7 linked regions of the Homo sapiens genome follow. The protein of the gene in region 2 interacts with the protein of the main gene of each other region in a pairwise test. Each region holds a gene or a part of one and is shown on either strand. Other genes may lie near its edges.

What was found.
Region 1: the proteins of AKAP17A (region 2) and SRRM4 interact in binary tests that used the Homo sapiens proteins (3 or more experiments, as listed by UniProt).
Region 3: the proteins of AKAP17A (region 2) and ZRANB2 interact in binary tests that used the Homo sapiens proteins (3 or more experiments, as listed by UniProt).
Region 4: the proteins of AKAP17A (region 2) and RNF4 interact in binary tests that used the Homo sapiens proteins (3 or more experiments, as listed by UniProt).
Region 5: the proteins of AKAP17A (region 2) and SDCBP2 interact in binary tests that used the Homo sapiens proteins (3 or more experiments, as listed by UniProt).
Region 6: the proteins of AKAP17A (region 2) and ANKRD36B interact in binary tests that used the Homo sapiens proteins (3 or more experiments, as listed by UniProt).
Region 7: the proteins of AKAP17A (region 2) and THAP1 interact in binary tests that used the Homo sapiens proteins (3 or more experiments, as listed by UniProt).

The regions. Positions count from the first base shown.
Region 1 is NC_000012.12:118,984,220-118,988,171, reverse strand, and holds part of SRRM4 (serine/arginine repetitive matrix protein 4), read right to left. Parts: intron 1-3,952. UniProt on the Homo sapiens protein: Splicing factor specifically required for neural cell differentiation.
Region 2 is NC_000023.11:1,597,698-1,601,649, reverse strand, and holds part of AKAP17A (A-kinase anchor protein 17A), read right to left. Parts: intron 2,459-3,952; coding exon 2,218-2,458; intron 1,513-2,217; exon of another isoform or gene 1,443-1,512; intron 992-1,442; coding exon 56-991; 3' UTR 1-55. UniProt on the Homo sapiens protein: Splice factor regulating alternative splice site selection for certain mRNA precursors. Mediates regulation of pre-mRNA splicing in a PKA-dependent manner.
Region 3 is NC_000001.11:71,070,994-71,074,945, forward strand, and holds part of ZRANB2 (zinc finger Ran-binding domain-containing protein 2), read right to left. Parts: intron 1,556-3,952; coding exon 1,479-1,555; intron 1,263-1,478; coding exon 1,128-1,262; intron 4-1,127; coding exon 1-3. UniProt on the Homo sapiens protein: Splice factor required for alternative splicing of TRA2B/SFRS10 transcripts. Binds to ssRNA containing the consensus sequence 5'-AGGUAA-3'. May interfere with constitutive 5'-splice site selection.
Region 4 is NC_000004.12:2,492,884-2,496,835, reverse strand, and holds part of RNF4 (E3 ubiquitin-protein ligase RNF4), read right to left. Parts: intron 1-3,952. UniProt on the Homo sapiens protein: E3 ubiquitin-protein ligase which binds polysumoylated chains covalently attached to proteins and mediates 'Lys-6'-, 'Lys-11'-, 'Lys-48'- and 'Lys-63'-linked polyubiquitination of those substrates and their subsequent targeting to the proteasome for degradation.
Region 5 is NC_000020.11:1,318,904-1,322,855, forward strand, and holds part of SDCBP2 (syntenin-2), read right to left. Parts: intron 2,298-3,952; exon of another isoform or gene 1,533-2,297; 5' UTR 1,514-1,532; coding exon 1,460-1,513; intron 757-1,459; coding exon 687-756; intron 1-686.
Region 6 is NC_000002.12:97,579,474-97,583,425, forward strand, and holds part of ANKRD36B (ankyrin repeat domain-containing protein 36B), read right to left. Parts: intron 1,096-3,952; coding exon 989-1,095; intron 1-988.
Region 7 is NC_000008.11:42,835,926-42,840,529, forward strand, and holds the end of THAP1 (THAP domain-containing protein 1), read right to left. Parts: intron 3,457-4,604; coding exon 3,261-3,456; intron 2,412-3,260; coding exon 2,037-2,411; 3' UTR 749-2,036; downstream 1-748. UniProt on the Homo sapiens protein: DNA-binding transcription regulator that regulates endothelial cell proliferation and G1/S cell-cycle progression.

The sequences.
Region 1 (3,952 bases), on a different chromosome or scaffold from region 2:
CTCCATGCTTCATTAAGGGTCTCTCCCTTCGCTGTTTTTTTTTTACATTCCTCTGTCTCTATTTCTCCCTACATTATCATGCTTAAGACAATAATATGTTTTACAGTTTCAAATAGCTAGAAGAAAAATACTGAATGTTTCTAATAAAAGAAATTATAAATGTTTAAGATGATGGATATGTTAATTACACTGATCTGATCACTGTACATTATATGTATCACAACACCACTATGTATCCCCCAAATATGTACAGTTATTATGTGAAAACAAATTTTAAAAATTAAAAAGACTGTCTCCCTTATGAAATATGTACTTATGTTGTGTCTACCTTTTCTACTAAACTCTGAGGCCCTCACTAGAGGACATTCAACTTTTTTCTCCCCAATGGGCCTGGCAAATAGTAACGAAAAAACCTATCATTTATTATTAATAGCAAGAGCCAACACTGATGGAGCTCTGACTGGGTGCCAAGTAGCACTTTCCATAAATTAGCTCATCCAGTCCTCACAGCAGCTCTTGGAGGGAGCTGCTATTATTAGCCCCATTTTATGGATGAGAAAACTGAGATTGAGAAGGTCAAGCTGCTTGCCAAGTCTCATAGCCCGTAAGCATTTGCAACCAATAAAATAAAACACTTCCTTTGATTAGTGTGCCCCTGAGGTCCATCAAATGTTTCAAACAGCTCTACCAATCTCCAGTGGCTCTTTAGGGAGCACCAAAGCCACATTTAAAAGTGAATACAGAGCATTGGAGCTGCTCAGGAGTCCAGTCCACAGAACCCAAGCATCACTACTGAACAAGCGCAGCCCAGGTAGTAAGGGGCTTTAGCATCCCCCCTCTCTGCATCTCGTTGGGTAGCCCCTGGCATAGTACACAAGAGCATCTGCTTTATGGAGATCTGGGTTTGTACCAGGCACAGTGCCATGCTCTTTATATAAATTATCTCATTCACTCCTCACTACAACCCCAACAGAGGAGTATTTCACAGATGGGGAGGCTGAGGCACAAAGAGGTGAAGTGACTAGCGGGTCCTGCAGCTTGCACGTAGCAAAGAAAGATTTGAGCCTGGATAGATTTGACTTCAGAGCTCAAACTCTTCATCATTCTACTTCCTCCACCTCAGAAATATTCTCTCACACTTCAGCGAAAGTCTTAGGAACAAGCAATTAAAGAGCTCTAGTTTTGCTAAGCCCCTGTGAATTCTTCCACTTCACGGGAAGGTAAATCCAGCCACTCTGAAAAATAAAAAATAAAAAAAACAGATTTTTTTTTTAATGTATTGCTCTTCTGCAGCATGCCTGAAGAGTTCATGGAGAAGAAGGCATGTGACCCAGGCTTCCTTCCCTATTAAAGGAGTTAGGGTTTTAGGGATGTTCCCTTTTTTTGGTGGCCTGGAGCAGTGGTGGAGGTAATGGAGACTTACAGGCCTAGAAAGCACATCCAAGTGGCATTTAGTCCAACCTCCTGCCCCCATACTGGCTAACATGTCTACTTGCCCAGACAGACAGATGTCTCTATCTAGGGAACTTCATTCTGACACCAGGGAGAGTCAAGTCTATTTGCAGTGTGTGCGTCTTTCAAGTTGCATTGATCAGAAGCCTCAGCGTCTCAGAACTGGAGGTGGGGTGGGGAGAGAGCTAATCTGTTGCTGGGTTTGAACCATGCACATTCATCTAATTAATGCATCCAACATTCACTGAACATCTACCACAACCTCGTTCTCTAAGATAGCACGTGTGCCGGGTGAACACAGCAGAATGTCAGAAATGACCCCCTGCAACCAACCCCTGTATCCCATTCAACAAATTTCACCTTTCAAAAGGAGAAAGGTTTGACCCACACAATAACGCTCCCTTCCTAGAGAAAAACGCTCATTCACCGCCAGGGCAAGCATTTTCTGTGACCCTCAGCGCATTGGCTCTTAACCACAGGCTGCTGCCAGAAAATCGCCTCTCAACAGCCCCTCACCTGGCTCCTGATGATCAAGTCAGCACAAACTGCTAACTGATCTCTTGGCACCGAGGGGAGTCTTGAATTAAATGGTTCAAAGGCATTTTTTTTTCTGCCTTACAATTTCCCTTTATGCAGTAAAATCTCCAATAGTTTGGAATTTATGGCCTTTTGGACAGGGCCTGGGCTGAAGTCTACTTCTGGTCTATTCTGCGTAGAAAGGATTTTTGAAGAAAATTAATAGCTTGCTAAAAGAATTGTAAGGAAAATGTGTGTTCTACTTAAGGGGATATCTTTTCTAGCCCTTTACTAACACTCATGCATCCATAAACAATTGATATGCAAATTTCAAATGATTTTTACATGTTCATTAAGCCTTTAGCTGCTACTATTGGTCGATATGGTGATATGAAATCATATTGTGGCTTGATCTAGCCTTAAGCACTAGGTTTTCACCGAGCTGAAACTTCTTAGGTACAAACTTCTCTAGGCTAAGCAATTAAAAAAGAGAATTAAGTTAATGCCAGGCAAAATGACTACCCTTCTTGGATGGGGATAAAAGGGAGGTGGCTCTCTACACTTTAGAGATTCATATATCTTATCGATTCATGCTGGTTCCCTTCCGGCTGGTAGATAAAGTTTGACAAGGACCACTGTACATCCTGGTTTGCCTGGGATGATCTCTGTTAGATCTTCCATCCTAGGTAATTACTAATGACACCTTCTTTCATTTTTAAAGACATTTTGATATAAACTATAAATCACATAGTCACTGTAGATTTGATGAAACCGTGGGATTAAAATTGTGATTTTTCAAGAAGTTTGAGCTTTCTTTAGACTGACAGTACCTGGTCTTCTCTATACAAACCAACAGAATGCTCCATGGAAATGTTATACCAATCAATTCTGAATCCAGATAATTATTTATTATCCCCAACCCCCTAACTGAAACAGTCAGATCAGAAAGCAGTTAGCCTCTTCTCAGAGACGAGGATTATGGGACCACTCTCTACCCTGCCTCATGTGTGTTAACTTCATCTGAATGTAGTTGTCCATCAGGAGTTGAAATCCCAATAAAAATGGTCAGCATTACTTGGGGGAGAAATGGGTAGGCATGGAGAACACAATGATGAGGAGTTGTTGCTTTCCTTTTGGCCACTATAAGCTTTGTTCCAGAGTCAATGTCTACTAAACAACACCATGCACCACACATAGGGGTAGAGCTTTACCTAACTAAATCCTTACAACCTGTTGTCTGAGGGGTTACTGTTATTATTTCTATTTTCAAGCTCAGTGTGGTAAAACTATTTGTTCAGGATACACAGCTAGTAAATGATAGAACCAGGACAGGAATCCAGGTTGTCTCATGCTCAAGTCTGAGCTCTTAACCACTATGATATACTGCTTCCCACTCTGCTCTACTGTTCTGACATTTGAGGCAGACATCTGGTTGCAATTTGATACATTATAAAGCTATTGCCTCATCAAGTATGCCCCACAGAGGGGTAGAGGAGAAAGAGAGACTAAGCAGGGGGTTGCTTAGATTGCAGTTGCATGATGTATGCATATTGCTATGAAATCAATGAATTGAATATATGTTTCTATCCTGGTACTAAATTACCTTGAGAGATAGACTTAAAATATCCTGAGGAAGTTTATTCAGAGGGGTGGCCTTCATCTATAAACAAATATTAAGTGTGACACCAACAGGACTGACTAGTGGTTCCTCCACCCACTCCCTGCCATCCCCCTGCAGACTGCTACATGTGCTGGTTTGCCGACTGTGATCTGGGCTTGACTCATGGAACTAAACGACATTTCTGATGAGACCAAGTCCCCAGATTGCCTCTAGAGGAAGCCACCCAAACCCAGCTGATATTGTGCCAATGCCTCTGTCTTCTTTCCTCTTGAGAACTCAGCTTTGGAAACATGGTACTTTCACCCTTAAGTAAGTGTAGAATGTTGAAAAGGAAGTGGAAATTGAATGTCACTGGATGTGGCT
Region 2 (3,952 bases):
GCTCGAGCAGGTCCTGGTCTTTCCCGGACAGGCCGTGGGGAGGCCGTGCCCGTCATTACCTGTTCCAGGTACTGCGGTGCCTGCTCGGGGACCGGGAGCGCGACCGCTCGCTTCGGCGGCGGTGGCGGCTGTGCTTCCTGCTGGCGCTGCCCCTCCGCTCCCGGCTCCGCTCCCTCCGGTGCCTGTCTTTGCTGTGGGACCTCCGGGACCGGGTGTGGTCCGGGCTCGTGCTGCGCCGGCGGGGGCTGTCATCCTTGTAGGCGTGCTTCTTGTGGGGCCGCCGCTCCTTGCGTGGCCTCCCGTCCTCCCTGCTGCTGGCCCGCCTGGCCCGGCTCCTCTCCCGCTTGTGCCGGTCAGCAAGCCCGTCTCCGGTGGCCCGGCCCCGGCCCTTGCTGGGCTCCCGGTTGCACTTGTCCTGTTCTGACCGGGTGTCCTTTCTGGAGACATTCTGCTCGCAGGCAGGGATGCCCTTGGGCTGTTGGTTGTTGTCAGGAATGCAGGAGAGGACGCCGCCCGGGCACCTCTTCTCTGGAGAGCCATCCTCGGGGACCACACGACAGGAGCTCTGAACCTCCTTGCATGGGGCCTCCTCGGCCACGCTCCCGTTCACGCTTTTGGGAGCGCCGTCGGCCTCTGGGTGGGCCGGGCTCTCCTTGGGGGCACCGGCCGGGGGCTGGCCCCCGAGGGGGTGCAGCGTGGTGGCGCTCACACAGCCGGACGACACGGTCTGCAGGATGTCCAGGACGGGCTGCAGCAGGTCGGCGTGTGCCACGCCCAGCTCGTCGTGTGTGTGGCTGTCGTCCGGCTTCTTGCTCAGCAGGATGCTCAGCAGCCGCTCGCGCAGCTCCCGCTCTTTCCGCTGCAGGCCCAGCGCGCGCTCCTTCTCCTCCTCCACGCGCCGCAGCTCGGCCTCCTGCAGCCGCCGCCGCTCCTCCTGCTGCTGGAGCCTCAGCTTCTCCTCCTTCTGCTCCTGTTCCCGTAGCTTCACAGCCTGCGGGGAAGAGGAAAGTGCAGCTGAGCCCGGTTCCTGAGCCTGGCCGGACACGTGGGACAGGAGCTGGGAAGGTGTTTGGAGGCCCCATGGTCTGGGGATGCAGGATCAGCGGCCTGGCTGGACTCCAGCCCAGGGGTGGGGGGCGTCTCCTACGGCGAGCCAGGTCCAGCCCGTCCATCCCTCGGCTCCCGCGGCCACACCTGGGGCCATCATGCGTCTGAGTGAGAAGGAAACCCCTTGGCAAAGCGGCTCGGCGCAGCCCCAGGGCGGGCCTCTTGGGCAGAGCCGAGCCCTGCCGGGAGCCCCACCACGTTGCACACAGGCGCCTGCGGTTAGGTCACAAGCGGCCGCCAGCAACAGGGAGCTGAGATGACGCCGCAGACGCATGCCACCGCCGTAGCTGCGGGGCGAGCCTGGCCTAGCCTGGGTTAGTGTCTTCAATATTCACCATGAGGTAAGGACTGGGCTGCCACATGTCTCAGCCTCTTGTCATGCTCCTTCCCGGGGACTTATCACAACTGTAATCAGACAACAGGTTATGGGGTCGCCCCGCGTTGGACTCCAGGGGGACGCAGCCCTCCTGAGGACAAGGAGCGTGCCGGGGACGTCTGTCCTGGGGAGGTCTGTCTGTCTGTGGGCCCTGGCCCCGGGCTCATGGGAGTTACCAGTCGCGCCTGCAGGAGGAGCAGGGAGGCTCTTGGTGCTGAGGGGGTCGTCAGTACCGGCGCTGGTGAGACCTGTCAGGTTCACGCTGCGGAGGAGGGACCCGGGCCCACGGCAGGCCCCCTCTGTGCGCTCAGCCCTCCCCCCAGCCCACCTTGCCCCTCTGCTCTGGGCCACTGGTGAGGTCACAGCCAGGCCAGCTGACCACACACAGAGGCGCGGGCCAGAGGGAGCGGCCCCCTGCACTCTCTGCCACTGCCCCGACCCAAAGGAAACAGAGAGCCTCTGCCCTGGCCCCCGGGAGGCTGCCAGCCTGCTCGGGGAACCTGAATGCACCAGCTTTGCAAAAGGAAACCGTCACAGCTCTGAAATCATCGGGAACGACAGACGAGCGCTACACCCTCCCGGGAAGGAGCCGTCATCCTCGGCATTAAAGCTGGTTTCGTAGCTACAGCTGCAGCCGGCGGGGAAACGGCGCCGTGACGCCGCCCGCATTTCAGGGGAGGGCACTGAGGGCAGCCCGGGCGCGGCTGGCGGCTGCAGAGGGAGCCCCCGGGTACCTTGGCTCTGCTGAGCAGCTCGGCGATGAGCCGGATGGACTGCAGGTTCCTCTGGGCCAGCAGCAGCTTGCGCTCCTCCAGCTTGATCTTCTCCTGCAGCTGCTTCTGCTCCTCCGCCTGCAGCTTCTCCAGCTTCTTCTGATTCCGGCGCAGCTCACGGTCCCTCTGCTTCTGCTCCCTCTTGCGAAGCTTCTCTTCTCTTTTCCTCTCTCGCTCCAGCTCTTCCAGCTCCTTTTGTTTCCTGTGTGGAACACACCGGGGGTGGTCACAGAGAGCGCCGCAGCCAACACACCACACACCATACAAGCGGCTTTCCAAACACGGCGGAACAGGCCACGGTCCAACGATTAAGCATTTAACTCTTTATCCCAAGGTGGACCTCGGTTGACTCAAAGCAGCCCGAGAGGTGGAAGGAGTGAGCCGGGCGAGGACCTCCGTGACCTTCCAACACACCGTCCTGCTAAGTGTGACCCAACCCTGAAACCACGAAGAAAACGACCACTGGACCGACCACATCAAAAGCCACGCCCCCAGTCAGGGGAAAGACGGATGGGCAGACGGACGGGTGAAAGAGGAACCCCAGCAGGCCCAACAAGGCCCCGGGATGCACAGCGGCGCGGAGGACGCCGGTTCTGCCCACCAGGAACCGCGCTGGGTGACTCCTTGTTGTGCAGGACTCCTGTGAGGGCACCACACAGCACTGGCACGGGGGGACCTCTCTCTAAACAAATCCAACCACAGCCACGCCACTCAGCTCCTTGCACTTTTCCTGTGGAGAGGGGTGTCCAGGAAGTGAGGATGAATGCGGCCGGGGAGGGGCGCGGTCCCCAGAGAGAGTCCACAAGAGACAGTGGGGAGTTCCCTAGCTCAGCCTCCCCCGCCCCGCAGCTCTCAAATGCATTTCAACCAACACCGGACATGGGAACAAGTCGCAGCTGTTCCTATGGAACACGACACGGAGGCGGAGACTTCTGAAGCCCGGGTGGGCGCCGCCAACCGCCTAGTGAGGCCACAAAGCCCGCCGGGGTGACACAGACCCACGCAGACACCAAGGGGAGAGGAGACACGGGGACAAGGAGGAGCAGGCCGGGAGAAAAGGCATCCCACGCTCTGCCACCCCAAGAAGGGGGCCGGGCCAGGTGCCGACGCCCAGACAGTGATCCACACGGTCTCCGGGCGGGGCATGCAGGTCCTCAGGCAGTTTCATGTGCTGAAGGTTTAACCGCCCTGTGAGCTGTCACCGCCCCACGAGCTCGGAGGGCGGCTCAGGGCAGCCCAGCACACAGCACGCCCTTAGGCGGGACCCACAGCGACGCCTCGAGGCTGGGCAGCTTTCAGAGGACAGCTCTCATCAAGCTCAAAGTTACACGTGAGGGCTGAACAAGCAAACATGCCTCATCTCCACCCACCAGAAAGAAATGCAGGAGGCTGCCCTGGGCCTCCCCTCATGCTCAGCCTCTGAGGAAGGACAGTGGGGGACAGCGGGGACAAGTACGGCCCTGCGTGTGGAGCCCTCCTGGCCAGCTCCCCCAGACAACAGGCCTGCCCCTCCCCGGGGCTCTGGACACCCCATCCTGCTCTCGAGAACCTCATGGCCCGGCCCCGCTTCCCCCAATCCCTCTGTGGTCTGGCCAGGCAGACGGGGTCCCTTCCCTGCAGAGACACACTCCACTACTCCAACGTCCATCTCTCCTCAGGGAAAGATCAAGGATGCAGCTTCTTCTCCGCACCCGCA
Region 3 (3,952 bases), on a different chromosome or scaffold from region 2:
ATCCTAACAAAAATTCAATTATAATTAGACATTTAGATATTAGTGTTACCTACCAGGAAAGATAAAACAGTTAGGTGTACTGAGCACCTCCATATGCATATATCACAGGTATCTCAGCAAATTAATTCTGAATTCTAAAATTCACCTACTAAACTCATCTCAAATAGAGACTTGACAACTTTGTCTCAGGTATTGCACAGACATAAACCTGGAGGCCATACACACTTTTTCTGTCACACTTATGCATCACCCAAGAATTTTCAAGTCCACCTCCTTAAAAGTCCTTGAAATCACCATTTTTAGTCTTAGACACTCTGTTCCTTATTCTCTAGCATATTATAGTAACCTCTTAGCTGGTCTCCTCAAATCTGAAGATCCATTCTGCCTCTCTAGTATCTCAATATACTGACAGTCATCACTCTGAAACACAGGACAGATAAACACATCTCACTTTTTTCTTAAAAACTTCAAAACTGGCTTATTATTTCTTTAGTTGCATTCCAAGACCTCTTATGATCAGGCTCTAAGGTACCCTTAACATGGCATAAAACTTACACTCTGGCCTGACAGAACAAGTATCACCAGACCTGAAATGTGTGCTGTCCCCCTCATCTCATTCTCCCCTCTGCTCTAACTATACTGGCCTATGTATGGTATTTTTGAAGGCTGCTGGCTTATCTCCTATTTAGGGAACCCGTATTTGCTGTTCTCTGCCTAAATGTGCTCTCACCTCGGCTCTTATTGCTGGCTCCTTCCTATCATTCAAGTTTCAGCTCAAACTTCACCTCCTTAGACATTATCCATCGGCAAAACCAAAGTTGCTTTTAAACTGTTATCACATCATGTGTCTTCATAACGTTACTGCTATCAAAATTACCTATTTATATATTTCCTCCTCTAGAACTGTGTAAGAGAAAACTGGTTCTGTTTCGGTCACCACTGTATCTCCAGAACAGTAGTGTTCCAAGTACAAATAGTACTTGGCAGAGTGGAAATCCAAAACCTTTGTGAGAACAAATGAAAACACAGAATATATTTTCACCAAGTGTCTGAGGCTGTCAAAAGCATTCATGTTATGGTATAACTCCAATAAGACAAAAGGGAAATAGGACAAGAAAATTGTTCACCTCATCTAACTTATATTTAGAAAGATCTTCATCCTCATCCTCTTCTTCTCCCTCTGATTCTTTATCTTCAACTTCCTTTAATATAGATGCAGGACCAACTGCTTTCCCTCTGTATTTTTTCTTTTTACGTCCAAACTAGAGAAAAACAATTTCAAAATGCTTGTCAGCTGATAATGCATTAAACTTAATACATTTTCTAAAAAATTATTTTAGATATTTATGATTTCCTGAAAATGATCAGTTGCTGAAGACTCAAATTGCACTTAAAAAAAAGTTTGTTTTCCTTTGCATTTAAGAATTTTTTCTGTTTTTCTAATTTATATTCAACCTGAACACCAAAATATAGCTTACCTCATCATATTCACCATCAGATTCTTCTCTTTCTATATATTCAACATTTTCTCTTTCATTAAAACCACCACCATATCCTTAAAAAAGAGGGCACAAATTGTTACCCTATGACAATTGATTTAAATAATAAACACATCATGCCCAAATCTCCAGACAACAAAAAACATCTAATCAACAATGGCTGCCTACCCATCTAATAAATTACTAGTCTTTAGAAAGCATATTAGAAATCACCACAGAAAATACAGAGAACTTAGTTGTAACGTCATATGGCTGTACTTCTAGCTCTTTTCAATTCCAAATTGCCCTACATGACTTATTTAATTCATAGAAAGTATTGGTGGAAAACATCTCAAACTTCTGCTATAACCAAGTTTTAAAGGACTTTCCTCTACAGTTAATCGTAATTCTTCTGGGAAGGGTGGGCTCAGTAACAACCAAGCATTAAATTCCACTGTTTACCAACTGCAAATAGTCTGAAATCTTCTGATATTCTGAAATTTTGCTACTTTAAAATGTAGCAGGCCTTATTAGAGCTTGGAAAATTCCTAATTACACAGACAAACACAATAACACAATAAAGGCCATCCTTTGGCCCTGGTTTAATTGGTTTTAACACATAGGTAAAAGTCACACAGGTTCTCTGAAGTAGCCAGTAAATTTTGAAATTAAATGATTCTATTAAAAAGTAGTTGAGATTAGCAAACCACTATTCTCTCATGTCACAACCAATGTATACAATTCAATTGGCAGGTCTCTGACATAAGCTTAAAGGAGAGACTGGAATTAAAGAAAATGAGCTAGTTTTAGGAAAAGTGAGTTGACATATTTTGAAAAAGTCTCCCATTGAAAATTAAAGAGGTATGTGTTGATCAAGAGTAATACAATCTAACTGGTCACATACTCCAGAGCAGTATCAGTACAATAAGGCCGGTGATTTCCAGACTTAGGGACTTCATTCATCAGCAAAATATTAAATAGATTTATAATAAAAATATTTTATAAAAATTAGGACTTGTAACTTAAAATTTGCCTATCATATTTAAAAAAATATTTTTAAAATTTCACTTTCTGAAAAAAACCCACACTAATATAGCATCTTTTCTTCATTATACTTTGTACTAGTGAAAACTTCAAAATACTTGGAAGTTAATAAAAATATTTTTAAACATACGTGGGATCTAAATTGGAAATAATTTACATAGGAAAAAACTGAAAAGTAATATGACAAATATGGAAAGCTCAAAAATATAGTAAAATTAGAAAGTGAACTATAACTCTAGTAGTTAATTTTTCAAAAGTATGTAAATAAAATTATTTTAAGAGGCAGCAAAATAGTCTGCTGACAACAAAGACATTGGTATGTTCTATGAACCCATACAATATAAATCTAGCTCATTAACTCTGTATAAATGGAAAATACACTAGCTCCCTATCGTGAAAAAACTGAAGCATACCATTTTCACTGAATACCTGAGATAGTGGAATCAATGGAATGATATGTATGTTTCCGTCATTCTACTAATTTCAAGCACTTCAGATAATGCTGTATAAATTGGTTTTATTTCCACTCTTGCCGCCACCTCTCCTAATTACTTCTCCACAAACAGAAAGAAGAGTGTTTAATCCATTACTCAGGTAACTCATCTTTCACTTCTTAGCTTAAGCATAGCTTTCCTAAAGAGGACTTCATTAATCTTTGGTGCTGTAAGACTCTTTTGCTCACCTAGGTATCCCCAGCACCTTGCACAGTGGCCTATAAATGTCTTCAAGGAATGAATACAGAAAACACAATTCTGGAATCATCTAATGAATTTGAATTTCTATGGAAAGCTTTAGAAAGCAACCAAGAATTTCCGTAGATTTTAGTAAGTCTTACAATGAATATATTTTCAAATTTGTCTCACAGTATAATGTAAAAAGCTGAGCAAGGGCCAAGAAAGAATCAAACACAGGTTTAAAATGAATGTTTGGATCAAGATTGTGACAATGGAAAAAAAGCGGGAAAGGGGGATGAATATAACATGTACTTCAAAGGAAGAACTAAGGCACTAACAGGAAAACTCTGTGATTCTACACCCTGAACAATTAATTCAACTCCTGAGAACATATTCTAAGGAAAGAATCCAAAAGAATAAAAATCACAATGTACTAAGTTTGTTTTTATGCCATTATCTTTAATGGTTTTTTTTTTAAAAAAAAGCTGACAAAAACAAAAATAATCCTAAATCCTGAAACAGAGAAGTAAATTACTGAACAATTTGATGGAATTATGCAGGATAAGCCAGCAGCAATCTTTCAGAGGTAGTGAATCACATTCTCTTTTATTCATATCCTGTCTCATGCTTAGGAAATGCTCCCCAAACCCTGCACTGCTTTATTACAAATAGCCAAAAGAAAGCGGAAAGCAACAGAGTAAGTTATTTCACACCTTCAACTGTTACCAGCAAAGACAAATACTTGTAGCAAGGGAA
Region 4 (3,952 bases), on a different chromosome or scaffold from region 2:
GAGAAACCATCCAAAACATAAAATGAGTAGAAATTCCAGAAAGTAAAACTTCTGTTTTATCAAACTATCAGCAGGTCGGCTGGGCATGGTGGCTCACACCTGTAATCCCAGCACTTTCGGAGGCTGAGGTGGGCGAATCATGAGGTGAGGAGTTCAAGGTCAGCCTGGCCAACATGGTGAAGCCTCATCACTACTGAAAATACAAAAGTTAGCTGGGCGTGGTGGCAGGCACCTGTAATCCCAGCTACTCCAGAGGCTGAGGCAGGAGAATCACTTGAACCTGGGAGGCAGAGGTTGCAGTGAGGCGAGATCGCGTCACTGTACTCTAGCCCGGGTGACAGTGTGAGACTCCATCTCAAAAAAACTATCAGCAGGTCAAAAGGGACACGATGCATCCCTTTACAAAAGCTTGAGGCCAAGTCAGGATTTGGACTTGGTAGTGGATGCCCTGGCCAAAAGGCTGGAAACTCTTCCCTTTAACCAAAAGTTATCAATTTCTCTTCCTTGACTTTGTGTTCAGCCTTTCTGAGCCCTTTTTGTTTCTTAGCATAAAGAACTTGGAGTTTTCTGAGTTTCTATACATTGTGGAAAGCTTATCTTCCCCTGGGAAATGTGGCCTTGAACCTTTCAGGGCACTATCAACTGTGATTCACACCAGACAATCACTCCCCACAAAGAACTCAAAGAACCAAAGCTGTTTTAAGCCTGTTCCCAGTGGCTACCCAAGAGCCATGTCTTCCGGAAAGTTCAGGCTCTCAGCTGGTTGATAAGCAACTGACACTCTGACCAGCCTTTCTTCCAAATCCTTAGGCTGCTGGTTTGCCAATATGCTCCAGCATTTCTGGTCTGCCTGGTCCCAAAAGACAAGCTGAGAATATCCTCCACCTTAATCAAGAGACAGAGCTGGCCAGGCGCAGTGGCTCAGGCCTGTAATCCCAGCACTTTGGGAGGCAGAGGCAGGCGGATCACCAGAGGTCAGGAGTTCAAGATCAGCCTGGGCAACACGGTGAAACCCGTCTCTACTAAAAATACAAAATTAGCTGGGCGTGGTGGCACATGCCTGTAATCCCAGCTACTCGGGAGGCTGAGGCAGGAGAATCACTTGAACCTGGGAGGTGGAGGATGCGGTGAGCCGAGATTGTGCCATTGCACTCCAGCCTGGGCAACAAGAGTAAATCTCCATCTCACCCCCCCCCAAAAAAAAAAGAGCTTCCCAACAGAGCCTGTCACCTTGTATTCCCACTGGTGTTTCCGTGCTCTTCTCCCTGTGCCCTGTCCTGCTATCCTTTGCACTGGACAACCTGGGACAAGTACTGCACTACTAAGTCTCAAGTTCCTCACCAGTACCAGCCTTGCAGAGCTGTTATAAGGTCTAAATGAGATCATGTATGTAAAGTACTGCGCAGAGACGGAAGATGCTACTACTATCCCAATTCCTTAGCCTTACTAGGGTCAATCTGTCCCAGGAAACTCTGAAAGGACCAGATATTGCAGGAGAGATTCATACAAGATCCAGGAACACCCACCATCCAGCCAAGCCCTCGCTAGGCAACAGGGATAAGCCTGATTCTGTGTTCCAATGCTACTCTTATCAAATGGCAGCTTGAGATGTTTTGGAAATGAAGCTGGGTCTAGTAACTTCCCACGGACTAAGGAGCACAGAACCAGCCCCAGGAGGGCCCAGAGGCCAAGCGACAGCAGCCAAAACTCCCAAGTGAGCAGCTGCTCTTGGCCTCAAGGGAGCTGACACTAACCTCAGTGGAGTTCTACTGCCCAGTGTTTTAAGGGTTTCCCCAGCAGCCACCAGGTTGCTTATGTAAAAAGTAAAGTAGAGGTTCCTCTTCAAAGACTTTCCTCCCCATCTAATTAGAAATAAATAGTAACTTCTCTTAAAAGCAAAATTTATTCAAAGACCTGTACTAACATTCTTAAATATCTGCTAGCCATAATAAAGAAATCAATGTACTTTATATTCTTAGCTCCCACAATTTAGCCTAAATATTTACCTTGGCATGCTTATATTAGTCCAAGCAAGCATTAGATCATAGCCTGTTCCTCTTCCTTATTTAAAGGTTATTTTTACCTTTTTCAGCATTCCACAAGTTACTTCCTCCTTCCTTTATTCTCCTCTGCCTTTGCCTCTTTTCAAAAGTTCTGGCCAGGTGTGGTGGCGCATGCCTGTAATCCCAGCACTTTGGGAGGCTGAGGCGGGCGGATCACAAGGTCAGAAGATCGAGACCATCCTGGCTAACACGTAGAAACCCCATCTCTACTAAAAAATACAAAAAAAATTAGCCAGGCGTGGTGGCGGGCACCTGTAGTCCCAGCTACTTGGGAGGCTGCGGCAGGAGAATGGTGTGAACCCGGGAGGTGGAGCTTGCAGTGACCCCGAGATCATGCCACTGCACTCCAGCCTGGGCGACAGAGTGAGACTCTGTCTCCAAAAAAAAAAAAAAAAAAAAGTTCTAAGTTGCTAGCCAATTGGGACAAATACAGAATGTGAGGTCCTGTTCCAGCCAATAAAAACTGGATACAGCAGCAGAGTAAACACATCAAGTTATAAATAACCCTGTCTCCTTTATTCAATGTATTCTCATGGCAAAACAACTGGTGAGTGTACCCTTTCTGCAGAAAGTATAAATATGGCCTTGCTAAAAAAAATTGAATTTACGTTCAAATGCTATTTCTTTACAGCACCAGAAAACAAGCATTTCAAACACTTAGGACTCTTTAATATTTACCCCATTCTCGTGGATCACGAGGTCAGGAGTTCAAGACCAGCCTGGCCAAGATGCTGAAACCCCGTCTCTACTAATAACACAAAAAGTAGCTGGGCGTGGTGGCATGCACCTGTAGTCCCAGCTACTCGGGAGGCTGAGGCAGGAGAATCGCTTGAACCCGGGCAGCAGAGGTTGCAGTGAGCCAATATTGCATCCACTGCACTCCAGCCTGGGCGACAGAGCAAGACTCTGTCTCAAAATAATAATAATAAATAAATGAAAATATTTACCCCATTCTCTTTGACAATGTCCTTTGTCCTCGTATAGGCTCCTTCCCTTGTAGCCAAGTCTTTTTTTTTTTTTTTTTTTTTTAAGACGGAGTCTCACTCTGTTGCTCAGGCAGGAGTGCAGTGGAATGATCTCGGCTCACCACAACTTCTGCCTCCCAGGTTCAAGCGATTCTCCTGCCTCAGCCTCCCGAGTAGCTGGGATTACAGGCACCCGCCACTGTGCTTAGCTAATTTTTTTGTATTTTTAGTGGAAACGGGGTTTCACCATGTTGGCCAGGCTGGTCTCGAACTCCTGACCTTGTGATCCACCATGCCCAGCCTGTAGCAGACCAAGTCTTTCTTACTAGGCACTGCTAAGCAGACCTCCATGTCCCACAGCTACCTGTGTGGTTTCTGGGCCCCACTGAGGGAGCCAAGAAAGCAGCCATGGGTCCTGGACCCAAAATCTCCCCTCACGGATAATTACAGGAATGTCCCCACCCCTCCCTAACCTCAGGAATCCTCTTTTCTGCCTGCTCTATCGACCCCTCCATGCCTTTAACCAGAGCTTCTTCCCTGCCTGGAGTGCCTGTCCCTCCCTTTCTTTACTTGGCCAATTCTTGCACAGCTTTCCAGAACCCACTCAAATGTCACCTCCTTCCTGAGGACATCCTTTACCCTCCCACTCTGCTGTCTCTGAGCCTCCTCCTCCCAAGTAGCTTCCCTGCACCACTCAAGACAGGCTCAATCAATCCAGGAATATCTGCAGAGCTCCCCACTCTGGCCCTCCCATAATTCTGGTCATAATTCTCTTCCTTTTCACTAGCAGGGCCCTCAGAGGTCCATAGCTTTTGGTGAAAACTGACCATCCTATCACAACCACATAAGCTATAACCACACCGTAACTTTCAGGAATTTTAACCAATTTCTTCACACACATGCACAAAAGGCTACATTGTTTTG
Region 5 (3,952 bases), on a different chromosome or scaffold from region 2:
GGCCTCACCAGAAACTGAATTGGCCAGAACCTTGATCTTGGGCTTCCAGCCTCCAGAGCTGTGGGAATATACATTTCTGCTGTTGAAGTCATCCAGCCTATGGTATTTTGTTATGGAAGCCTAAGCTGAATAAGGCAAGTGGGGTTCTGGCCCCTTCTCTCTTTGAGCCGCTATCTGCCGTCCACTTCTTCCCCACCTGCCCCCACCCCAGGCCAGCCATAGTTCCAGCAAGGAAGTCTGACAAGTGTGGTATTTCATTCCCGGGGTCACATGAGATTGGATCACCAGAATGGTGCTGAAATGCTGATTTGAGGTGACTCAAATCGTTTATATAGACAGAGGCCCCACAAATGATATCACATCCTCAAGGCAGCCTTGCTGGGGGCATCAGAGAAGCCATAGCTTCCCTAACTTGAGCTGGGTTTGGAAGGATAAACAGGGGTTCACCAGGCAGTCAAGGAGGGAGGGGAACAGCATGGGCACAGGCTCTGGGAGGTGAGGTGACTCAGCCCAGGTCACCCAGGCAGTAAGAGGTGGGTGGCAACTGGAAGCCTGGTCCTCTCTTCCCACCATGTTGAGTCCTTAACCCTGGAGCCTCCCATACCTTTGGCATTGCCAAGCTTCCCTGATGATCTCTTCCCTGAAAGGACTTGGCACCCAGGAGCCCCTCATCCCAGCCCACTCACCTGGTGGTGGGGAAATGGCTGTTGCCTGGACTGGCAGGGCTGGCATCTTGGGTGAGGCTCTGACCTGGGCCTGGGGAGGAGCAGGGAGCACTGGTCAGCTGTGGCCAGGACCCCAGGAACCCCAGAGCCTGGAGCTCCATGAGGCCAGGGTCTGGGCATTAGGGGTGTGAGTGGGCCCGGGGTGTGGGGGGAGTGTGCACCAACCCTCAGGGCTCAAGATCACGTAAACGTGGCCTCCGCAGATGTGTCTTTTCCTGGGAGGAAGTTCTGGGGGACTGTGACCCACCCTATGTCACAACCCATTTACTGCCTGCAACAGGCAGAACATCAAGGCCCATCTCCCAATCAAGTTCTCAGCTGAAAAGTCTCCATTTCTCAAAACCCACTGGAACCACAGAGTGCTGGGATGGAGGAGGAAGGGGGCTTCTGGGGGCTAAGCAGACCAATGCCTATGCCCACTAGTCTTGTTTCCTCTGAAAGCCTGCCTTAGAGCATGGAGCCCGCCCATCCTGGAGGGAGGGAGAGCTGGGCCTGGGCAGGACAGAGCAGGCATGAGAGAGGCATGCGTGCGCTGCTTGGTCTTTTCTATTCTTGCTGTAACGCCATTGGCATTGCCCCCTGGATGTCTTCTCTGCCCAGCAGGCCCTGCAGTGGACACCTACATGCCCTGAGGCCTACGGGAATCTCCAAGTGGCCCCAGTACCCAGCACCTTCCAGGGTAATCCCCAAGGTCCCCTTCAGGGAATCCAGGCCAATGGGGCCTGGCGACTTACCTGAATGGCTTGGTCCACTTTTAGGTCCTCTAGAGATGGGTACAGGGATGACATGGCTGATTCTCAGAACACCCTGCAGAGTGCAGAGGGTGGGGAAGGATAAGGATGCAGCTGATGCCCCCTTGAAAGGAGGCACAGACATCCGCAACAGCAAGCGGGTTGGAACTTAATATTCAAACAGAAAGGCAGCAGGGCACTTAGAATGCCTCCCCGAACTCCACCCCTAATCCCCTGTCGATATTTGAACTCTACTGTATTCCACTCATCTCCAGCCTCACTGTCAACTTTTAATCTTGGCCACAATGAAGTAAGACCAGTAGGAAATTTATAAAGACTCTCACACAAACTGTAGCAGAACTTAGACACTCAACAGGGCACTGCTCCAGAGGGAGGAGGGAATGGGGGGTGGAGAGGCACCATGAGCACTTATTTACTAAACACCTTCTCATTGTCCCAGGGAGAATCAGCAGGACCTCTGAGCAAGGTGCCCCGAGAAAGTGAAAGGAATGATGACCTCTTAAGAAATGTTTTATTCCCTTCCTGACGAAATGTGGGGAAGGAGCAGTCTGCCTTTCTGGGTTCCTTCCCTTTACTCACTAACCACTGGCTCTGTCACACCTCCAGGCTTCGCTGAGGCAGTCCACTCCAACTGGAGCCCCTGCCCAACCTCCTTGTCACCCTCGGTTCCTGTGGGACACGCCTCCCCTGGCTCCCAGGCAATACGGTCACTGCCCCTCCCACCCAGGACCCTGCCCTCCGGGACAGCTCCGGGACAGCACCGGGCCAGCCTCTTGCTTGAACTCGCCACTTGTCCTGACTGCAGTTCTGAGGGGTAAAGGTGTGTCCTATTCACCCCACTGAACTCACATGTGATGGGTACACATGATAAAGGAATGCCCGCTGGTGGCACAGGAAACTGAGGGTCCTGTGCCTGAGCGATGTGACTCCAGGCTTCCCAGGATCAGATCCGCTGGGCACCTCCCTGAGTGACCACAGGCACGCCGAGGACATACTCATCCATCACTGCTCCTTCTCCTCCCTCTGCACCTGCTGCCTTGACCCCTGTGTCATCCTTGGCCCCGCCCCCACTATCCCTTCTTGTCTGTCATCAAATCCCATCTCTCCCACATCCCGTGTTGTGCAGGTCCCCATCATCTCCCTGGCCCTCTCCAGGTGCCATAACACCCTCCAAACACACTGCTGCCTCCCCTCCTGCCGTCCTGCTGCTCTCCAGACAGCAGCCACCAGGCCCTTTGTGTACACACTTGGGATGTCATGCCCTGGCTGAAAGCCCGCCAGTGGCTTCCCTGCCTTGGGAATGTACTCTCCTTAAAGAGGCTCACAGGGCCTTCACGATTCCACCAGAGATTGGAACTGGTGGGCCCAGGGCCAGATGGAAATAGATTTTATTTGACCTTGTGGAGTACTGTAAACGTTCAGATTAGCAGCTTAAACACAAAGCTCAAGGTACTGGATTTAATAATCGAATTTCCCACTGCTCCCAAAAAACAGGAAGCTTTGGCAACCCTAGGCTATAGCAGAGTAGCTACAATTGAGTAGCAGCAGACTCCAGGGTGACCCAGTCCACCATCCTCTATTGGCTGTTACACCCAGACCATTGTACTCACTGGTGCCAAGTCCCAATAGATATTTGTTTGCAACCCTAGTCTACCTCTCCAGCTTCATTTCTTGCCTTACGTCCTTTCAGCTGCTACTTTCAACTCCAGCCACAATGAGCTACTTCCACGTCCTTGCATGTGATTCCCTCCTGTCTCTTTTGCATGTGTTATTCCTTCTATCTGGAATACCCCTCCTCTCCCTGCTCCTTGCTTGGCCAACTCCTAATAATTTTCAAGTCTCAGATCAGGGAGCTCCTCTTACAGGAAGCCTGCTTTGATTTGTGCTCCCCCTAGCCCCTGCTCCATGTCCTACTCCTGTTGAGTATTCACCACTCTTGTGGTTGCCTCTTTACTTGTCTGTCTACCTCCTTAGGAGTTCCAAGATGGCAGGAACAGGGGCTTCTCATTTGCTGTGAAGCCTCTAACCCCTAGCATGGAGGCTAGCTCAATAATATTGCCAGAAGCAACACATTCTACCTGGGCTTCCACTTTTCTCCTTGTAAAGTAAAGCTCTAGTATCCTAAGAACACCCACCTTCCTGGATGAAACAAGGACCAGAAGTCCCAAATGTGCCTCTCACAGTCCTGTTTTATTATTATTATTATTTTGAGACAGAGTCTCACTCTGTTGCCAAAGCTGGAGTACAGTGGCGCGATCTTGGCTCACTGCAATCTCCAACTCCTGGGCTGAAGCCATCCTCCCACCTCAGCTTCCCAAGTAGCTGGGACATAGGTGCATGCCGCCACACCTGGTTAATTTTTGTATTTTTTGTAGAGACAGGGTTTCAGCATGTTGCCCAGGCTGGTCTTGAACTCCTGGGCTCAAGCAATTTGCCCGCTTCGGTCCCCCAAAGTGTTGGGATTACAGGCCTGAG
Region 6 (3,952 bases), on a different chromosome or scaffold from region 2:
CTTCAGTTAATGATGCTCATAAGCATGTGCTAGGCATTTAATTAAACACTATATATATATATATATGGAGGATAATAATATATCCTTCAAGGGTGGTTGTGTATAAGTAATATCACATATATATAAAATATATATAGTATATTATATATAATCTATAAAATATATAATATATAGTATATTATATATTATCTATAAATATATATTGTATATATTATATATTATATATGATGTTAGTTACATTATATTCTTACATACATATGTGTGTATATATATTATATGCACATACTTATATGCTCAGCCATTGTTTCCAAAACATCAGCACCTTGCTCTGTTAGCTGGACATTCTAACATTATATATATATAATGTTACTTACACACAACCACCCTTGAAGGATATATTATTACCCTCCTTTTCACAGAAGAAAACATACTTGGTAAGTAATGTTACCAAGGTCACACATCTAGCAAGTGGGAAAGCTAGGGATTAAACCCAGTCCTGTGTGAACCTAAAGCTTGTCTTCATTGAAGTAAAGTTTTATCCATCTAAAGCTATCTTTTTTCCCCCTCCCCATATCAATTAAAAACAACATCAAAACACAGTAGAAATGAAAAACTAACATGAAACCCCTTTAGCTAATGTAAGATCATACAATCAAAAGCATCACATTATTACATTGTAAATAACACCACATCATCTTACAAATAACAAACATCTATCAATATACAGAGCTTTCTATATATAGAAGCCTTTTATGTGTATAATGTCTATAGAGAGAGATGAATCCTGCTATACACTGTTCTTTATGTTACTCAGTCCAAATAATTGTTTTTCTACCTAAGTGATGATCTGTGTTGATATTTCTCACTATATCCCAGTAATTAAAAGTTAGTCTTCTTACTAATGTAATATTTGTGACTTGAGTGACTGCTACCACTCTAAAATGACACTCAGGTTTAAAAACAACACAATAAGAACTAAGGTCTGTACCTGCCAAGATAATCAATGGCATTTACATTTGCTTTTTTCTTTAATAAAAATTCCACCATTTTCACTTTTCTTCGACTCACAGCAAGTAACAGTGGCTGATATTCATTCTGTAAAATAACAGCAACAATTTATAATCACAAAATTACATATTTATCAACTGAAATGAAAACCTTATGTAAGATCCTGTGAGCTTCAATATATACAATTGAAAGGTCGTAAGAGGTAGTCCCTTTCTTTTCCCTCCTCGGTGCTTTTCTATGTTCTGCTCCTTCCCCTGGAAACAACCTCCTCTGCCTCACCACAAGAACTCTGGTCATCTCCAAAACTCACTTCAAACATTTCCCAGTTCCAAGAATCTTTGCTTCTGTCCCAGCATTTAGCATGGCATGTTTCAAGGATTTAATTGTTTCCCACCTGAACCAAGAGCTTCTTGAGGGCAGCAGCTGTATTTTTTTCTCTATGTCCTCAAACTCTAAGACACAGTAATAAATGTTTCAGGTATTTTTATTAATGATCTAAATTATTATCTATAGAGCGGTGTTTCTTAAACTATTAATATATTCCAAAGGATATTTACTTTACCAGAATTTGAACATTATACCCCAAAAGAGAGACTCCATGATCACCCATGTTTGAAAAATGTTACAAAACTGTGCATTATGTGTCTAGTATTTGAGAAATCTTTTGAACTTCACCTAATCCCTATTTGTAAATACTTATTTTGGAGAATGTTAACATTTGAGAAATGAGAGTTTCAGGGATACAGTTGTGAGAGCTTACCAGTAAAGGTAGAGGTTTCCTCTGGGTGATACACACTTGCCTCATTCTCTTCTATCGATGGTGTGAGAATCTCAGGTGACAATGTCAGGAGCTCCTGAGCACCTGAGCACCTGACATTGTCATCTGAGATTCTGACACGATTGACAGTTCATTTGAAGCCTATCTCTTTTTAATTCGGAGAGCCGGGCTCTGAATTAATAGAGATAGGCTTCGAGTGAACTTTCACTGCTTATTATTAAATAGTCCATGGGTTTTCTCTAGTAATATTTTTATCTTAGCTGTCAGAAAGCTCTGTATGAAATGTTATTCTCAATTACAATCTTAGGACCCTGATGCAAATATTTATGTAATTATAATCTTAGGACCCTGGTACATAACTCCTTTAAAAATCTATTTGTATTCTAGTTTCCAATTCATTCTTACCTAACTTATTTTATTTTAGGTAAAATATCAATCAGAAATAAAAATACAATGGCTTATCAATTAAAGCTCTAATAATGACCTATATGAATTATTTATAGCATAATGAAAACCACTAAATTATTTGCATCATTTATTTATTTATTTATTTATTTATTTGAGATGGAGTCTCGCTCTGTCACCCAGGCTGGAGTGCAGTGGTGCCATCTCGGCTCACTGCAACCTCCGCCTCCCGGATTCAAGCACGAGAAATTCTCCTGCCTCAGCCTCCCGAGTAGCTGGGACTACAGGCGTGTGCCACCACACCCAGCTAATTTTTTGTATTTGTAGTAGAGAGGGGGTTTCACCGTGTTAGCCAGGATGGTCTCAATCTTCTGACCTCGTGATCTACCTGCCTCTGCCTCCCAAAGTGCTAGGATTACAGGCGTGAGCCACTGCGCTCGGCCAATTACTTGCATTTTTAGGAGGCAATGCTGAAGAGAAAAATATAATGTTGTCTGCAATATGCATAACCTATGCAACTATACCATGATTCACCTTAAAAAGCTTACATGCATTCTAATGGGAAGATGATTATTTATGGTATGTATAAATAGTTTATAAAACACCACCATCTAAATTCAAAAGTTCAACCCGATTACCAAAGGATTTATATAAAATATAGACTCTACATTTAAATAAATATAAAATGTCTTGAAAACCTTGAAATATTTACTAAAATATATTATAAAACAGGGCTTGTAAAGTCATCCCTACAGAGGCAAGGGAGATGACCTGAGGAAGTGAAGTACCTAGGTAGGCACAGTAGCAAAATGGAGACCACATGCCTCATAGAAAGGGGCAACCTCTGCACAGCATCCAAAACCTGAGATAGGCTCAAGGGACACCAGATTGGATTCTTGAAGAGAAGCTTGGAATCCAGATCTGTGCACGAGTCTCCTAAACCTTCCATGTTGAGACAATTTGTAGACGCAAACTAAACACATGTATGGGACACATTTGGACTATATACCTTGTATTTTTATATTTGCTATGGATATGTCTCCAAGCGATTGTATGTAAAGCAAGTATTTTCATGTAAAATACTTCCTTTCTTTAGTTTCAGATTTTTTTTCCAAAATAGGCCCAAGAATGCAATAAAAATTGTTACTAAGAGTCATAATACCCACTTTGAGCACTTTTACAACATTCATTCATTTATAATTTATGTTTAATTTTCCCAGATTGTTCACCAAATGGATAATTAGTTCATAGGACTGCTGCAACTAAATTATTAAAATAATATTAAATTATAATTCTAGTTTCTATATTGTAACCTAATTTTTTTTATTTTAGGTAAAATATAAATCAGAAATAAAAATACAATGGCTTATCAATTAAAGCTCTAATAATGACCTATATGTATTCTTTGTATTCTTACTAACTTCATGGTTTTCAGTGTTTAAAACTGCTATCCTGATTATGCCACAGTTCTATGTACTTAACTGACATACTGAGGCAGTCCATAATAGAGCTTCAGCTTTAAAAAAAGGTTTAGAATTTTTTGCTATTGTAATTGAGAGAACCCCGCTTTTAATAATGATGTATTGACCTAATCACCAGAATGATAACAAAGAGACTCAGAGTCCTGAAAGAGTCAGTCTCTACTTATTAAAAGAGTCCACAATAGCAAATTTCTAATGACCCTATGAATGGCAGTGAATAAGTGATGGTGGCAAAGAAAAGGTGTTATTCTTATGCTGATAGATACTGCAAATAATAGTC
Region 7 (4,604 bases), on a different chromosome or scaffold from region 2:
TGGTCAGGCTGGACTTGAACTCCTGACCTCAGGTGATCCACCCGCCTTGGCCTCCCAAAGTGCTGGGATTACAGGCATGAGCCACTGTGCCCGGCCGAAGGTATATACTTTTCAAAATATTCAGGAATAAATCTAAATATTCCTGAGTACTTCCAGGAATTGCTAGAAAGATGACATATAAAACCAAACTTCTTGAATACTTTGTAGCTTCGAGTTCCATGAATAATCTGTAAAAGCCTTCTGACTGATCAGCATGAGTTCTAAATGATGTTATCAGACTATGTAACTTCAAGTAATCTTTTTTTTTTTTTTTTTTTTTTTTTGAGACGGGGTCTTGCTTTATTGCCCAGGCTGGAGTGTAGTGGCGCAATCTCAGCTCACTGCAACCTCCACCTCCCGGGTTCAGGCAATTCTCCTGCCTCAGCCTCCCAAGTAGCTGGGACTACAGGCACTCGCCACCATGCCCAGCTAGTTTTTGTATTTTTAGTAGAGACGGGGTTTCACCATATTGGCCAGGCTGGTCTTGAACTCCTGACCTTGTGATCCATCCGCCTCGGCCTCCCAAAGTGCTGGGATTACAGGCGTGAGCCATGGCGCCCCGCCCAACTTCAAGTAATCTTCTAATCATTATTTCTATTTTTGAGATACTGGTTCATAAAACATCAAATATGCATGAATCACAGTGCTATCCACTGGCAGCATGGCAGTGAACTACAATGAAAACCAGTTCTACAAAAGACACTTTGAATGCCATTGTTTCACACCTTTAATACTGTCTTAAAGGTTCTATTGCTCTTCAACGATCTTAGTGTACTTTGAAATATAAAAGTAATAATTATCATTGGAACAGTTATTCTAAATCTAAAAAGATAACTCCCATAGCAATATTTGTTTACTCAGAACATATTTTCACTTCCAATATATGTAAAATTTCTCACAAAGAACAGAACTCACAGTTTGAACAGAAACCTCAGTGTTTAAATCTCCACATTCAGTAAAATAAACGCTACATAGTAGGTTGTTCTGAATATAAATCACGCACTTAACTAAATGGGATATAATTTCTAACTTGTGTTAAAAGTGAAGAAATAATTTTTTATGTGAAGCCTTGTCCCAACTCAGTCAAGTGCAAGATTATCATATGATACAAATCAAACTCTACTAACACAGCACATTTGTCAGAGACTTGAAGGCAGATACATAACTACAGCTGGGGAACTGGATGTCCTTCAGCTAGGGTGTAATGAAAGAAAAAAGCGTATCATAGATCAGGTCCCAGTTTTAATTACTTCATTGATGACAATGCCTTACTTTATTTATTGAAAAATGTTTCTTCCACTGAAAATACACTTCTAATTTTATAATGCAAGACAGTAGGGGAAAAAATAGGAGCCCATGTAAAAAAAAAAAATCCACTCTTAGAATCTGAAGTTATTGATCAGATATGCAATGACTTTTTTCTGCTGTGATGATAATCAAATCTTTTTTCTTAAGTACTGACTTGCCAATTTATCTTTGATAACTGATTCAGAAAGATAAATGAACCTTGTGACTTTACATATGAGAATATGTACATATGTATATATATATTCTAAGAAGTTATGTCCCATGATCTGACCCATACTTCTGATTTAAAATATAACTAAATTCTCTCAATAAAACAGTACTAATTTTAAGTTTTAAACTGAAATCACCCTTTTACCACACTGTTCTCATTCTCTTTACTTTTTATTTTTACATTATTTCTATAAATACTAAAAAAAAACCCCAAAATCCCCAATCTTGAAACCAACTTACATTAGAGGTCTGAGGTTAGTTTATAACTTTTAAAATATTTTGTTAAAATGTAAAAAACCTGAAATTACAAACAAAAAAATTTATAATTTTACAGTATATATAGAATTTTTTTTAAAAAAATATTCTGAACTGTTTTTATATAAGTAATCAAATGTTATTTTTTTAAATGAAACTCCTTTACAGGCTAGAGGAGGATATGTGGTATTGCCCCATTAGAAATCAATACACATTTCATTTTTTTATGCTGGTACTTCAACTATTTCAAAGTAGTCATTTGGTAGAATCACATAACCTCTTTCTGATACGTCGTCTTTCTCTTTCTGGAAGTGAACAACCTCCTTTAATTTTTCAAGCTGCCGTTCTTGCCTTCTGCATCGCTGCTGTGCGGTCTTGAGCTTCTTTCTGAGTTTTTCAACTTGCTGTTCTAGCTGATGAATCCTTTTCCGCTGGTGCATTGTATCCTCCACAGTATAGTTGTGGTCACAGAAAACTGAGAGATTAACAGGGGTCTGAAGAGGCGGCATTAGTAATCCAATAGCAGCATCAACCTGGGAAACAGGAGGCGGTAAAGGAGGTGGGGGAAGCTGTTCCTGTGGCTCCAGAAGATCTTCTTTCTAAAACAAAAATACAAAGTATGTTTGAATTTAGTAACTAAAAACAGTTTAAAAGAATCTGTGGACTGACCAGGCGCAGTGGCTCATGCCTATAATCCTAGTACTTTTGTGAGGAAGAGGTGGGCGGATCACCTGAGGTCAGGAGTTTGAGACCAGCCTGGCCAACATGGTGAAACCCTGTCTCTGCTAAAAATACAAAAATTAGCCAGATGTGGTGGTGCACGCCTATAATCCCAGCTACTTGGGCGGCTGAGGCAAGAGAATTGCTTGAAACTGGGAGGCGGAGGTTGCAGTGAGCCAAGATCATGTCACTGCACTCCAGCCTGGGCAACAAAGACTTTGTCTCCAAAAAATAAATAAATAAATAAATAATAAAAGAATCTGTGGAATTTAAGAAATACTGACTTTTTTTGGGAATCAGTGGTATAGAAACATTCCAAAATGAGAAAACAGTTTCAGTTTGAATAAACTTTTCTACCTGAAGTAGAGGGACGGTGCAGGAAAGAGACAAAATGAATCATCAGATCTAATTAAATATTAAGCACTGAGGAGAAAAAAATGCTTTGAAACTAAACTGTCACTGATAAAGAAAACCCAAAACTTATCAATATATAACTGGCAGTACAGAGTGGTTTTTAACTAAGTTACAAAGCTGGACTAAGTTTCTTAGTGTGAGGATATTTATCTTTAATAAACTGCATTTTGTGTTTTCAGAAGTGTATCACTGTTAACTACAAGGTTCCAGGCACATTTATTCTCTTAACACTAACTCAATTTTCCACATTTTAATCAATGAACACATCAGTTTGATAAACAAAAAGCAACCCAATATTTTAAAATGCATATTACCTTGTCATGTGGCTCAGTACAAAGAAATATTGTGGGCACAGCATTCTCTTTCAGTAACTTGTTGTTGCACTCTCTCTTAAAGCAGTCTGGAGTAAAGTGCTCTGAACAAATACTGCTATACTTGGTGGGTTTAAAGTTTTTTCTTCTGACAGCTGCCTCCCATTCTTTACAAAGACTGGGTCGAGTAAGAGGAAACCTAAGAAGAAGGCATAATTCAATTATCTGTCCTGATTTTTTAAATAAATAAAGGCACCCAAACTTTCCAGCTTAGGAAATATCTTACATTGGTATTAAAGATGTTACAATTGTATTATCCTATTGGATTAAAGATTAGCTCTAGTTATCTATTTATCTCATTTATTAATTTTTTAAAAATTTTTTTGAGATGCCGTCTTGCTCTGTTGTTAGGCTGGAGTGCAGTGGTGCAATCTCGGCTCACTGCGTCTCCGCCTCCCAGGTTCAAGCGATTCTCCTGCCTCAGCCTCCCAAGTAGCTGGGACTCAGGCGTGCGCCACCACGCCCAGCTAAGTTTTGTACTTTTAGTAGAGATGGGCTTTCACCATGTTGGCCAGGATGGATTCGATTTCTTGACCTTGTGATCTGCCCGCCTTGGCCTCCCAAAGTGCTCGAATTACATGCGTGAGCCACTGTGCCTGGCCCTCATTCATTAACGTTTAACTTTTTATACTGAGTTCACCAAAAGATTCAGGTAAAATACATACTATAGAGTAAATGTGCCCACGGCTCATGCCTGTAATCCCAGCACTTGGGAGGCCACTGTCCGAGGGACTACTTAAGTCCAAGAGTTCGAGACTAGCCTGGGCAACACGGCAAAACCCTGTCTCTACAAAAGACACAAAAATTAGCTGGGCATGGTGGTATGTGCCCAGGTACTCAGGAGGCTGAGACTGAGGTGGAAGGACTGCTCGAGCCTGGGAGGTCAAGGCTGCGGTGAGCTGAGATCATTCCACTGCACTCCAGCCTGGGTGACAGAGCCATACCGTCTCAAAAAGAAAAAAATAACCTGTATTCATATTTTTTACCAGTAATTTTCTGTGTGCTGCACAGAGAGACAAAGATTGCACATTTGTATCTGCGTACTGGGAAAAAGGGGCTTCTAGTTCTCTTAGCATCAGTCTGACAAATATGAATAGGCTAAATTTGAATTAAAGGCAGATAATAACGAAAGAATTTATTTTCTAATCAACTGGGATGTCCATTAGGCCCAGGTAAACGGGGATAGTGAGAGTTTACATTTATTGTGGTAATTTTACTCTTCCAAGTTAAGAATTTGGTAAACTGGGGGGATTAGAAAGAAAAAGGGAAGGGAATTTCAAATTTATG